Homo sapiens: one gene and its partners. The protein of the gene in region 2 interacts with the protein of the main gene of each other region in a pairwise test. Each region holds a gene or a part of one and is shown on either strand. Other genes may lie near its edges. The genes, in order: CCND2, ABCB5 and PSMB9.

What was found.
Region 1: the proteins of ABCB5 (region 2) and CCND2 come close enough for resonance energy transfer, tested with the Homo sapiens proteins (one large-scale study listed by BioGRID).
Region 3: the proteins of ABCB5 (region 2) and PSMB9 interact in a two-hybrid assay, tested with the Homo sapiens proteins (one study listed by IntAct).

The regions. Positions count from the first base shown.
Region 1 is NC_000012.12:4,283,680-4,287,331, reverse strand, and holds part of CCND2 (G1/S-specific cyclin-D2), read right to left. Parts: intron 1-3,652. UniProt on the Homo sapiens protein: Regulatory component of the cyclin D2-CDK4 (DC) complex that phosphorylates and inhibits members of the retinoblastoma (RB) protein family including RB1 and regulates the cell-cycle during G(1)/S transition.
Region 2 is NC_000007.14:20,614,204-20,618,595, reverse strand, and holds the start of ABCB5 (ATP-binding cassette sub-family B member 5), read right to left. Parts: upstream 2,930-4,392; 5' UTR 2,759-2,929; intron 1-2,758. UniProt on the Homo sapiens protein: Energy-dependent efflux transporter responsible for decreased drug accumulation in multidrug-resistant cells. Specifically present in limbal stem cells, where it plays a key role in corneal development and repair.
Region 3 is NC_000006.12:32,857,040-32,860,351, reverse strand, and holds the end of PSMB9 (proteasome subunit beta type-9 precursor), read right to left. Parts: intron 3,090-3,312; coding exon 2,958-3,089; intron 2,348-2,957; coding exon 2,218-2,347; intron 1,989-2,217; coding exon 1,847-1,988; intron 948-1,846; coding exon 820-947; 3' UTR 501-819; downstream 1-500. UniProt on the Homo sapiens protein: The proteasome is a multicatalytic proteinase complex which is characterized by its ability to cleave peptides with Arg, Phe, Tyr, Leu, and Glu adjacent to the leaving group at neutral or slightly basic pH.

The DNA of each region.
Region 1 (3,652 bases), on a different chromosome or scaffold from region 2:
GCAGCTCTTTTAATGGTCAGCCCATTGCCCCAGCATCAAGTTAGCAGCATTGTTAGACACCGTGGATCCCTGAGCCAAGCACAGCCCTCCCCTCCCATCATGAACGCAGAGCAAACCTGGCCATCTGCCTGTCTCCTTGGCTTTTTCTCCATTGCCCTCTCACCATCTCCACCTCTTGAGGGACGTATATAATGGTGCTGCGCCCACGCCTGCTGTCCACCCGCCCCTCCTACGCCTTCTCTGTCGCCATGAACAGTGTGACAAAGCCAGCCTCCCTGCCTCTTGCTCTGCTGTAGGTCTCTTCCACATGGGTCACAGGAGAGTGTTTCTCTGCCCAATAACCTCGTTAGCTCCCCCCTGTGACATTCATAACACAAGCGGGGCAGCCGGCCCATGGCCCTGGGCCCACAAAGGCCCGGGTGGGAGCATCTGCCAGGGAAGAGGCAGGCAAGTATCCCCGGCCCTCCCTTCCCTCTGCCATAGGCCTCAGACCGGGAAGCACACCTCACACATGCCCATCTCTGCTGTCCCACTGCTAGCAAAACCAACTCTTATTATTGGCATACGAATGAACTTCTGGAAGCCAGCAGGCATAGGGGGAACAGGTGCACCGGTTGCACAGGGAGACTCTACCTCCCTTTTTGTTTTACTAAGAAGATTTTCAGGGGAGTCCTCTTGGGGACACTGTCCAATCCCACAGAATTGGGGAGCACTATGTGCATGAACTTGACTGCCTCTCAGCAGCTCAGAGTGGCACCAAAGGAGCAGTGTGTTCCCACAGCCAGAGGAGAGACGCCGCTGGAGACGAGGACGGCGGCCGTGCTGCCCTCTGTTGCCCGCTACACAGAAGACGAGCATCTTCCTCGGGATCCCTGAGCATGCCCCACCTCTCCTCCAGGTTAGTCAAATACTGAGGCAACATCAGCCCTCCAGCTAGGTCCAGACGTGGGACTGTGGGCAAGTCACTTCCTCTTTCCAAGGGCTTGGTTTCCCATTTGTCTAATAACGGGTTGGGTGAGATAAGTGTTTTTCTAACTTCTAGCTGCAACTCATTAATGGGTCATGAAATGCATTTGTGGGTCGTGACCAGCACTTTCTGTTGTTGTTCTCCTTTAACCAAATAGAGTAGGATAGAAAGTATCAGGCTCACCGTATGTCGTTAAGAGTAAATATTGTTCGGAGAAACTTTTGTATCAGTTTGATATACTTGTACAAGTATCCTGAGTTGTGTTATAAAATGTGTTTCTTCCTACATGGCTTAGGTCAAGAGTTTAAAGATAGTAAGCAGGATAACCTCCCAGGTGCCTTACAGGTCTACTTTGCTCTTACTTGAGGATCTGGAATGGGAATGACTCCCAAGGAGAAGAACAATGAGGAGACAATAGAATGGATCACGGTGTCTACCAGCCGGCAAATTCACAAAGCAGCCCTCTCCACAGAGCGGCGCTACTTCCCCGTGGCACCAGGGCTGCCCCAGGACCACTCTCAAGGACATCCCCCTCTCTACTGGTAGGGGATACTGAACAGAGAGAAAAACAAAAAAATCAAACATCATTTCATCTGTGCACTAGCTTCCTAGCTGTAATTAGCCAACCCCCACCCTCAACTGTGGAAAGCTCCACCTACCCAATGCAGCCATTCCTGGAAACCATCAGCTTTGTCGCTATGACAGGATGGAGAAATGGTCACAATATCCACTCAGAAGAAGGAAGCGGAAAACCAAATTGCATGCATGCATGCGACGATGAAGATTACAACCATGGGTAAATACATACATATATGCCTATGGATGAACTGGAAGGATGCACGGAAAATAAAAGCTGTTCTGTTAGGTGGGAGAAACACAGATGAGTTTGTAAAATTTGTACGTAATATTATTTTAACAAATAAAAACCAGGTACAAATTTCTCAGCAGTCTGTTAAGTCTCTTGATCAAAAATGCCAACAAGCAATATGCTGGTGCAGAAGGCACGCTCAGGGGTGAGGGTGTGCCCTCGCCATCGTTAATTGCCCACCTGGAGAGGTGAGATGCTGGTGACTTCCTGAGATCCTTCCTCCTGCAGCAGAGAGAGAGGCAATGAACCGATCAGCGATCCATTCTGATCGACTCATGACAATGTGCTCCTCCCTGTTCCAGGCAGCATGGAGGACTCCCCCCAAAACGTACAATATTCAGACTTCTTAAGGCTGGGCATCAATGCATTAGATAGTAGAGGATGGTGTGCTATAATGGCTAGGTCTGTACTACTATATGGATAACTTCTGAAGAAACTTCTCAAAGAAAGGGGGCTCTTGAAGGCTGGGCGCAGTGGCTCACAGTGTAATCCTAGCACTTTGGGAGGCCGAGGTGGGCAGATGACCTGAGGTCCGAAGTTCGAGACCAGTCTGGCCAACACGGTGAAACCCTGTCTGTACTAAAAATACAAAAATTAGCCAGGCATGGTGGCACGCGCCTGTAATCCCAGCTATTCTGGAGGCTTGGGCAAGAGAATCACTTGAACCCGGGAGTTGGAGGTTGCAGTGAGCAGAGATTGTGCCATGCACTCCAGCCTGGGTGACAGAGCAAGACTGTCTCAAAAAAAAAAAAGAAAAAGAAAAGAAAAAAAAAAAGAAAGGAGGCTCTTGAGTGAAGAGGAGCATTTGAGACACTTCTCAGAAGACTCTTCAGGGAGATGGGAAGGATTTGGAGAGTAGACTCAAAAAGCTCCAAGCTGGAACGTGGAGTGCACGGAGCTTGGGCAGCCTCCACTCCTGCCCCAGTCCCCACCAGACCCAGGAGGGCCTTTCTCCAGGTTGCTGCATCTGGAGATCTGAAGAGAGCAGGAGCAGCCACACGCCTTGCCATGGGCAACAGAGGCCGTCCCAGGGCCTAGGGCTCCAGCTCCCCTCCAACCAAAGCAGACCTCTGGAGAACACAGCTCACTGGTTCAGAGTATTAGCTCTGGAATCAGAAGGAGGTGGAATCTCCATCCCACCACCTACCAAGTGTGTGAAGATGAGCAAGTTACCTGACCTCTCTGAGTTTTCATTTTCTGATCTGCAAATAATGACAACAGCAATACCCACGTTGTAGTGCTGTTCTGAGGATTCACTTAAAATAATCCTTGTAAAAGCACAGTGCCTGGTTCAAGGTAAGCAATGAATGTCAGCCAGCATCCTCCCCAACCTGCCCCTCCTCTGCTCTCACTCCTAGTACTTCCTGCAGGACTGTGGTGGGGAGTTCCGACTGGAGATGCTCTCCAGCGTCTGGAGGGATGAGGAGAAAGGCGCCCAGCATCCCTGGATTGCAGGCAGATGCAGGGAGCAGGCCAAGCAGGCCAGGAAGAATGAGGGCTCTGTGCTTCCTGGAGAATCTGTCACTATCCAGTTGTGTATGTGTCCCAGAAATGACATCATCGAGTCCCCAAAGCCTCCTGCTGCTTTGCAGAACTGGGAGAAAGTGCAGCCCCACAGGGGAATGAAAAGAACCCCATGAACACTCAGCGAATGGAAGAGAGAAGTTGGCAACTCTAACCCAGCACATTCCACAATTCATTGAGATGCAGTTCACCCGAGCCAAGGAACGATGCCCAGATAACCAGGAACACCCGACATTCCCGCCTCCCTCCTGGCAAAATGGTGGAGGCAAAGGACACACCTTAGGGGAATCCCA
Region 2 (4,392 bases):
AGCCACTGGAGACTATCAGAGGTGGGAGAGAGGAAGGGGAGAAGGTGCTGAAAAACTACCTACCGAGTACTATGCTCACTACCTGGGCGAAGGGATTATTCACACCTCAATCCTCAGTGTCACACAATGAACTCATGTAACAAACCTGCCTGCACAGGTAAGCTCTAAATCTAAAATAAAAGTTGAAATTATATAAAAGGTGAAGATAGCCATATAAATGAAATACTGATACATGCTACATAAATAAACCTTGAAAGTATTATGGTAAGTACAATAACCCAATCACGAAAGACAACATACTATATAATTCCATTAATATGAAGTGCCTAGAGCAGGCAAATCCATAGAGAAAAAAGTAAGTTAGTAGTTGCTGGGTGGAGGAGAAATAGAGATGACAGCTAATGAGAGGGATACAGGGTTTCTTTTCAAGATGATAAAACCACTATAAATTGAATGTGGTGATGGCTGCTCAACTCTATGAATATACAAAAACTTTTGAATTGTACATCTTAAATGGGTACATTCTATGATATGTGAATTATATCTCAATAAAGCTGTTAGCAAAAAAGGGTAATCTTAAAGTTTCTAACCATTATTACAGAAGTTTTTATTTCTCTCTGCTTCTGTCAGTGTTTATTTAGGAGCTGTGATATTTTGTGGCTGTGTGCTTATAGTTGTTATATCTTCTTGGTGATTTGACTGTTTTATCACTATCTAATGTTCTTTGTTGTCTCTTATAAAAGGTTTTGACTTGAGGTGTAACTTGTCTGGATATTACTATAACCATTCCAGCTCTCTTTTGGTTAATATTTGCAGGATTATCTCTTTTTATCCTTTTGATTTTAACCTATTTGCCTTTAGATCTAAAATGATTCTCTTATTGACAGCATACAGTTAGATTATATATTTTTAATCCATTATAAAAATGCGATTTTTGGGTCTCACTCTAAAACTTCTGAATAGAATCTGCATTTTAACAAGATTGTCGAAGTGGTTTGTAATGCATATCAAATTTTGAGAAACATGACTATATAGTATCTAGCACAAAGCCTTGAGAAACAGAAGGCACTACTTATCTAGAGGAAATTTTATCTTCCTAAATCCAAGATTATAAAAATAAAGTTTAAAATACACCTTAGTGCTGACAACATATTGTTTTTATCTGCTGTTAATAGCACAGTTTTAAAGTATTGTCAAAGGACCTCTGGCATCAGAATCACCTGGAGTGCATGTTAAAGATATCAGACACCTACCTAGGCCTTGCCCCACATGTACTGAATGATAATCTAAAGAAATGCACTGGAAAAAAATCTACATTTTAAACAAGCTCATTAGATGATTTTTTAAAAAAATTTACTCATTCTATAGATATATACTGTGCCAGGTACTGTTTTAAGCACTGAACAGCCTAGACATCTTTGCTGTCATAGAGCTTAGACTCCATTACAGGGAGAGTCACAATTTTAAAAAAAGGCATACATAAATAAGGAAAATTAGAGAGTGGTCAGTTTTTGGTATATAATTAAAACAGGGTAATTTTATGAAGAGTAATGTGGTATTTATATACATCTGGTCAGAGAAAGCCCCTTGTAGAAGATAATGTTTAAGCTGCAATCTGAATTATAAAAGGAGGTTGCTATATAAAGATCAAAAAGACTATCCCAGGCAGAAGGAATACTATTTAGATAGTAGAGAAAAGTGCACTGAGACAAAGCGACACAAGGTCAAAGCAATTTGTGAGCCAGTTGGCAGGTCCTCACTGTATGGAAAGCTACAGGTTGACTATGATGGCTGCCCCCATGTTCCTCTCTGTTACCCAATGTTTCAAAAGGAAGATAAATTTAACTTGAAACTTGTCAAGTTTGAGATATTTGTGAGATAATCAGGTAGTAATATCCAGCACTAAGTAGATAACATGAGAGAAGAACTCTGAACATCTTAATTGCTCTACACAAAATCTATCAGTCAGCCAATTCTTACTTATTGACAGCTGTGTGGATGCTATCATGGCAAGTACTATGGAACATACAAGAAAATGTAAAAATAGACAGAATATTTTATTTATAAGGACTTTTGCCTTAAAAAATATTTCTAGGTTCATGTACCAAGATGGAAATCATAGGACAAAATACCCATGTGAGAAGAAATCATGAGATGCACTTAACGTTCAAGCATCCTTGGTAAGAATAATCTGACAAATAGCTAAGATATACTGGTTGGATGGAAAACATGGGATCTTTGGTTAGATGAAAGAAGATATGGCTGGGCGCAGTGGCTCATGCCTGTAATCCCAGCACTTTGGGAGGCCAAGGCGGCTGGATCATCTGAGGTCAGGAGTTCGAGACCAGCCTGTCCAACAAGGTGAAACCCCATCTCTACTAAAAATAAAAAAATTAGCTGGGCATGGTGCTGGGCACCTGCAATCCCAGCTACTCAGAAGGCTGAGCCAGGAAAATCTCTTGAACCCTGGAGGCGGAGGTTGCAGTGAGCCAACATCGTGCCACTGCACTCCAGCCTGGGTGACAGAGTGAGACCCTGTCACAGGGAAAGAAAGAAAGAAGATATGAATTGTATGGATGCTTTAAAATGACCAAAATAATAGTAGGATGATCATTTCTGACTATGAAAAAGTTTCATACACACACATTTTTGTTTCCATCTTTACCACAAACTATTCTTTCTAAGATGGAGAAGTGTTTTATATTCTTCACAAGCTTCAATTGTTTTCATAATCTCTAATACTTTTGCTTTGACTTACTTTAATTCCTTAGATGCTGTTTTGAGTGGGCCCCATCCAGTCAGTTGAAGTCCTTAAGAGAAAAGACTGAAGTCTTCTGAAGAGGATAGGATAAAGCTTTCAGATACAAGGTATCAATTTTTTGCCAGAATTTCCAGCCTTCTAGTCTGGCTTGTGGATTTTGGAAGTGCCAGTCACCACAATTACATGAGCGTGTTTTCTCTTTCTCTCTCTACATACACACACACACACACACACACACACACACACACACACGGCCTATTGATTCTATTTCTCTAGGGGAACCTAATATACCTGGCAAGACAGACGTTATGTGATGAATAGTACAAAGAGTGACTATTCTAGTATCTAAGAAGACTGAGGAAGAACATTGTGATCTAAAATGGTTTCGCCCACAGATGAGGATGGCCCTGAGGTTAGTTTCTGGAGGAAGGCTAAGGTTTCAGTAAGTAGAAAAATGTGGAGGAGGAACAAGGGCATAGTTTTAGGAATGCAAGGTGAATTATCTCATGGTAGAGAAATGAGAACGGTTTGGATAGGATGGACTGTTCATGCAGAAATGGAGAGAGAGATAAGGTACATACGATTGTAAAAGGCACTGAACCAATTTTTAGGACAACTTTTATAATTTTCTGGAATGAAAGAGACAAAGCCATTGGTATTTGGTACAATTAACCTGATTATTTGACATTACAGCCATGGATATACTGGAAGGACTTGGGGAAACACAAGATTTAAGTAGACTCATTAAAATCTAGTTTGATAGCAGTAAGTAAGACTATTTGAGAGGTATTTTTAAGGCGGTAGGTAGGTAAAGAGGACAAGGAAGAAGAAATAAAAAAAATATAAGTTCAGCGATCAAACTTTTAAAAGTTGTAACAAAAGAGTAGTAAAGATGGTAATAGAGAAGTTATGAGACAGAATTGGTTTTGGGGAAATGGTAACATTCAGTTTAAATATGCAAATTTGGGTTGATATTGGTGTCCAAGTGAAAATATCTGGCAAACAGATGTAAATGTGGCACTAATAATTAGGAAAATTGCCAACCTAGAGATAAACTTGCAATTGTCATATGCACAGAAGGAATAATTAATTTTGCTTTAAAAATCTCATGATGTCATCTAAATGCACAGAAGTGGTGTAATGTAGCTAAAAGTGTTACTTCTAGAGCAGAGCCATCCAACAGAACTTTCTGCAATAATTGAGATATTCTCCACACATCCAATATCCTAGCCGCTACACATATGTGGCTATTGAGCGCTTTTAATGTGCCTAGTGAGGGAGCTGAATTTTGAGTTTTATATAATTTTAATTAATTTATTTTATTTATTCAGCTTTAATATGTATAATTGACAAATACTATTGTCTATATTTAAGGTTTACAACATGATGATGTGATATACATATACATTGTGAAATGATTACTGCAATGAGCACATCCATCACTTCACATATTTACGTGTTTGTGTGTGTGCGTGTCTGGTGAGAACGCTTAAGATCTACTCTCTTAGCAAATTTCAAATATACAATACAGAATTATTAACTGTAGTCACCATCCTGTACCCATCTTATAACTGGAAGTTTGTACCCTTTGACCAACATCTCCCCATTTCCTCCACCTCCTAGTCTCTGGT
Region 3 (3,312 bases), on a different chromosome or scaffold from region 2:
CACTGTAGCCTCAAACTCCCAGGCCTAAGCGATCCTCCCACTCAGCCTCCCAGGCAGCTGGGACTACAGGCATGCACCACCGCACCCGACTAATTTTTAAATTTTTTTGTAGAGATGGGGTTCTCACTATGTTGCCCAGGCTGGTCACTAACTCCTGGGCTCAAGCAATCCTCCCGCCTTGACCTCCCAAAGTGCTGGGATTACAGGTGTGAATACAGGGGGTTTTTTGGTTTGAATTTTAAGAGATAAAATTTATAAAACATTTAGCCAATGCCACAAATGTAGCTTCTTTTGGTTATTGTCATTATTCTTTGAAATTCACAAGTGCCCCAAAATATTTAAGCATTTTTCATGTATTGCCCTTTAATATGAATGAATGCATTATGAAAGGAATTCTTTTACATGCGAGTTTGCTGATAGTCTTAGCTAATTCTCATGTGTGTAGGTGTCTTGCCTATCTGTCAGTCTTAGCCTTAAAGGAAAGAGTCCCATCACCTCACTTGCGGCCTCATCATCATGGACCGCATGATGATGCGGAATGAGAATTTTTATTGTTTGTACTACTTCAAAATCATTCAGTACGTGATCACCTGTCATGTATAGGGCTCTTTATATTTCTAGTTTAGTCCCTTTTGTTTTCTCTAGGAAAGATGTTTTAGACCTGGGACAAAAGAAGAAAGAGTGTATGCTGACATCTAGGAGGGAAGCACCCACCTCCCCTAAGCTCCATCTCCCTGAGCACTCATTTCCCAATGACCATACCAGGTTTTGGCCCTAGAGAGTTTATTACAAAATAAGAAAGAGAAGTCTGGGGAAGGTTCACTCATCATAGAATTTTGGCAGTTCATTGCCCAAGATGACTCGATGGTCCACACCGGCAGCTGTAATAGTGACCAGGTAGATGACACCCCCGCTTGAGCCATCCCGGCTCATGGCCAGAGCAATAGCTGCAGAGGGTTTCAAGTTGGAGAGAGGGAGAGAGAGGATGGCTTAGCTTCAAAAATCTTTTTACTCCCCCTCCATCCATATGCCTACTACCACTTTCACCTCAAAACTCATCTTCCAGGAAGGCATATTTAGTGGTGTGCTGGTAAATCAGTTTTTTTACAAAAAGGCTTCCATATGTGGCATCTGCTGATGTCCGTGGTGTAAATGCTCCCGCTATGATGAATTGCAAGTTACAAATAGCTAAGCAGTTCACAAATCCTTGACTATTTAACAGTCCGCTCTCATGAGTGGTCCCAAGCCAGCCTCAGCACACCTCAGCACACCACTGGTTCTTTTTTTTTTTTTTTTTCTCCAGACAGGGTCTCTCTCTGTCACCTAGGCTGCAGCGCAGTGGTGCAATCACCGCTCACTACAGCCTTGATCTCCCCGGCTCAGATGATCTTTCCACCTCAGCCTCCTGAGTAGCTGGGACTACAGGTGTGCACCACTATGCCCAGTTCATTTTTTTTTTTACTTTTTTTTATTGTTTTTTGTGGAGACAGGGTTTCACCATCTTGCCTAGGCTGGCCTCAAACTCCTGGGCTCAAGTAATCCTCCTGCCTCAGCCTCCCAAATTGTTGGCATTACAGGTGTGAGCCACTGTGCTTAGCACACCACTGGTTCTCACAGTGACTGTGTATCCTCATTTGATTTACTCAGAACAGCCCTGGTTTATCCGTATTGCCCAAGAACCCCATTGAGCTTTGCATTTGTCCTGCCCCTTTTCACTCTTAAAAGTGTACCAGGCCCGGCATTAACTTAAATGGCCACCCCTGTATTTCTCTTCCTGTTCCTCATAATCTACTTCCTTCCCATGTTTCAAAGCCCTCCCCAGGTACCCTTCCACTTGGCTGGTTACCGTCTGTGGTGAAGCGCCTGCACTCCTCGGGAGACATGCCTGGCTTATATGCTGCATCCACATAACCATAGATAAAGGTGCTGCCGGAGCCACCAATGGCAAAAGGCTGTCGAGTCAGCATTCCTCCCAGGGTTCCATATACCTGGGAAAGGGATCCTCAGGTTAAAGAATCATCAAGCCCTTCCTTCCCACTGAGACATTAAGTGGTCTCTGCACCCTGCAATGAAGCCCTGGTATCTCATATCCCCAAAGTACTATGCTTTCAGAGGTAGTGTCCTTGGAACTCATTGCTAGAATGACATAGGACTTCCATCTTCCTCTGCAGGAGAGTGGGGAAGCCCAGAGGAGAGAGTGCTTTGGGAGAAACTCACCTGACCTCCTTCACGTTGGTCCCAGCCAGCTACCATGAGATGTGCAGACAAGTCCTCTCGATATTTATAGCTGATATTTCTCACCACATTTGCAGCAGCCAAAACAAGTGGAGGTTCCTCCAGTTCTATCCTGAGGGAAATATTAGGAATAAAGGTTGATAGAATTTTAAGTCTCATTCTCCTATACTGTTACCATCATCCCTGCTAAACGACCCCTGAAAACTGTAACTGCAATAGCTCAAACTGCAGCCTCCCTCCCACATGTACAGGGGAACCAGAGTCCCACACCACCAACTGGTAAGAAGCTTTCAATTGCTCACTCTTTTGCTCAGCCCCACCCACATAACTTTCTTTTGGCTGCAAGGACCCTGCTCTTATGGGGAAAAGCAGATAAGGTTACTTCCGTCCCAACGACCTTGATTTCTCGTATGGTAACTGCCTGATATTATGGTGGGTCACAATATCACCTTCTTCCTGATTATTTATATCAGGATAGTGATTTACAGCTTTTAAACTGTGTTCACATATAGAATGTGGTTCTCAAAATAACCGTCTCATGAGGTACTATATTATCTCCACTTTACAGATGCAGAAACTGACAGATTCAAGTGCCAGCAAGAGCCGAAACAAGACTTTTCCATTTCCCAGTGTCCAGCTCCTGGAACAGCACACTGTACAGGGATTCATGCAGGTTGGGGGAGCTCTAGTGGGTGGGGAGTCAGAACTCCAGAGCTTCATACCCATGGAGCTCCAGCTGGTAGGCGGCCATGTCGGCCACGGCTTGGGCATCAGCAGCTGAACCAGAGAGTGCACAGTAGATGCGCTCGTGCAGCGGGGACAGCTTGTCAAACACTCGGTTCACCACCGCCTCGCTGTCAGGAGGGAGTCAACAGTCACCAAGTTAAAACTCAGGTTTTTTTTTTTTTTTTTTTTTTTGAGACAGTCTCACTCTGTCACCCAGGCTGGAGTGCAGTGGATCAATCTTGGGCTCACTGCAAACTTCGCCTCCCTGGTTCAAGTGATTCTCCTGCCTCAGCCTCCCGAATAGCTGGGATTACAGGCACCCACCACCAAGCCCAGCTAATGTTTGTATTT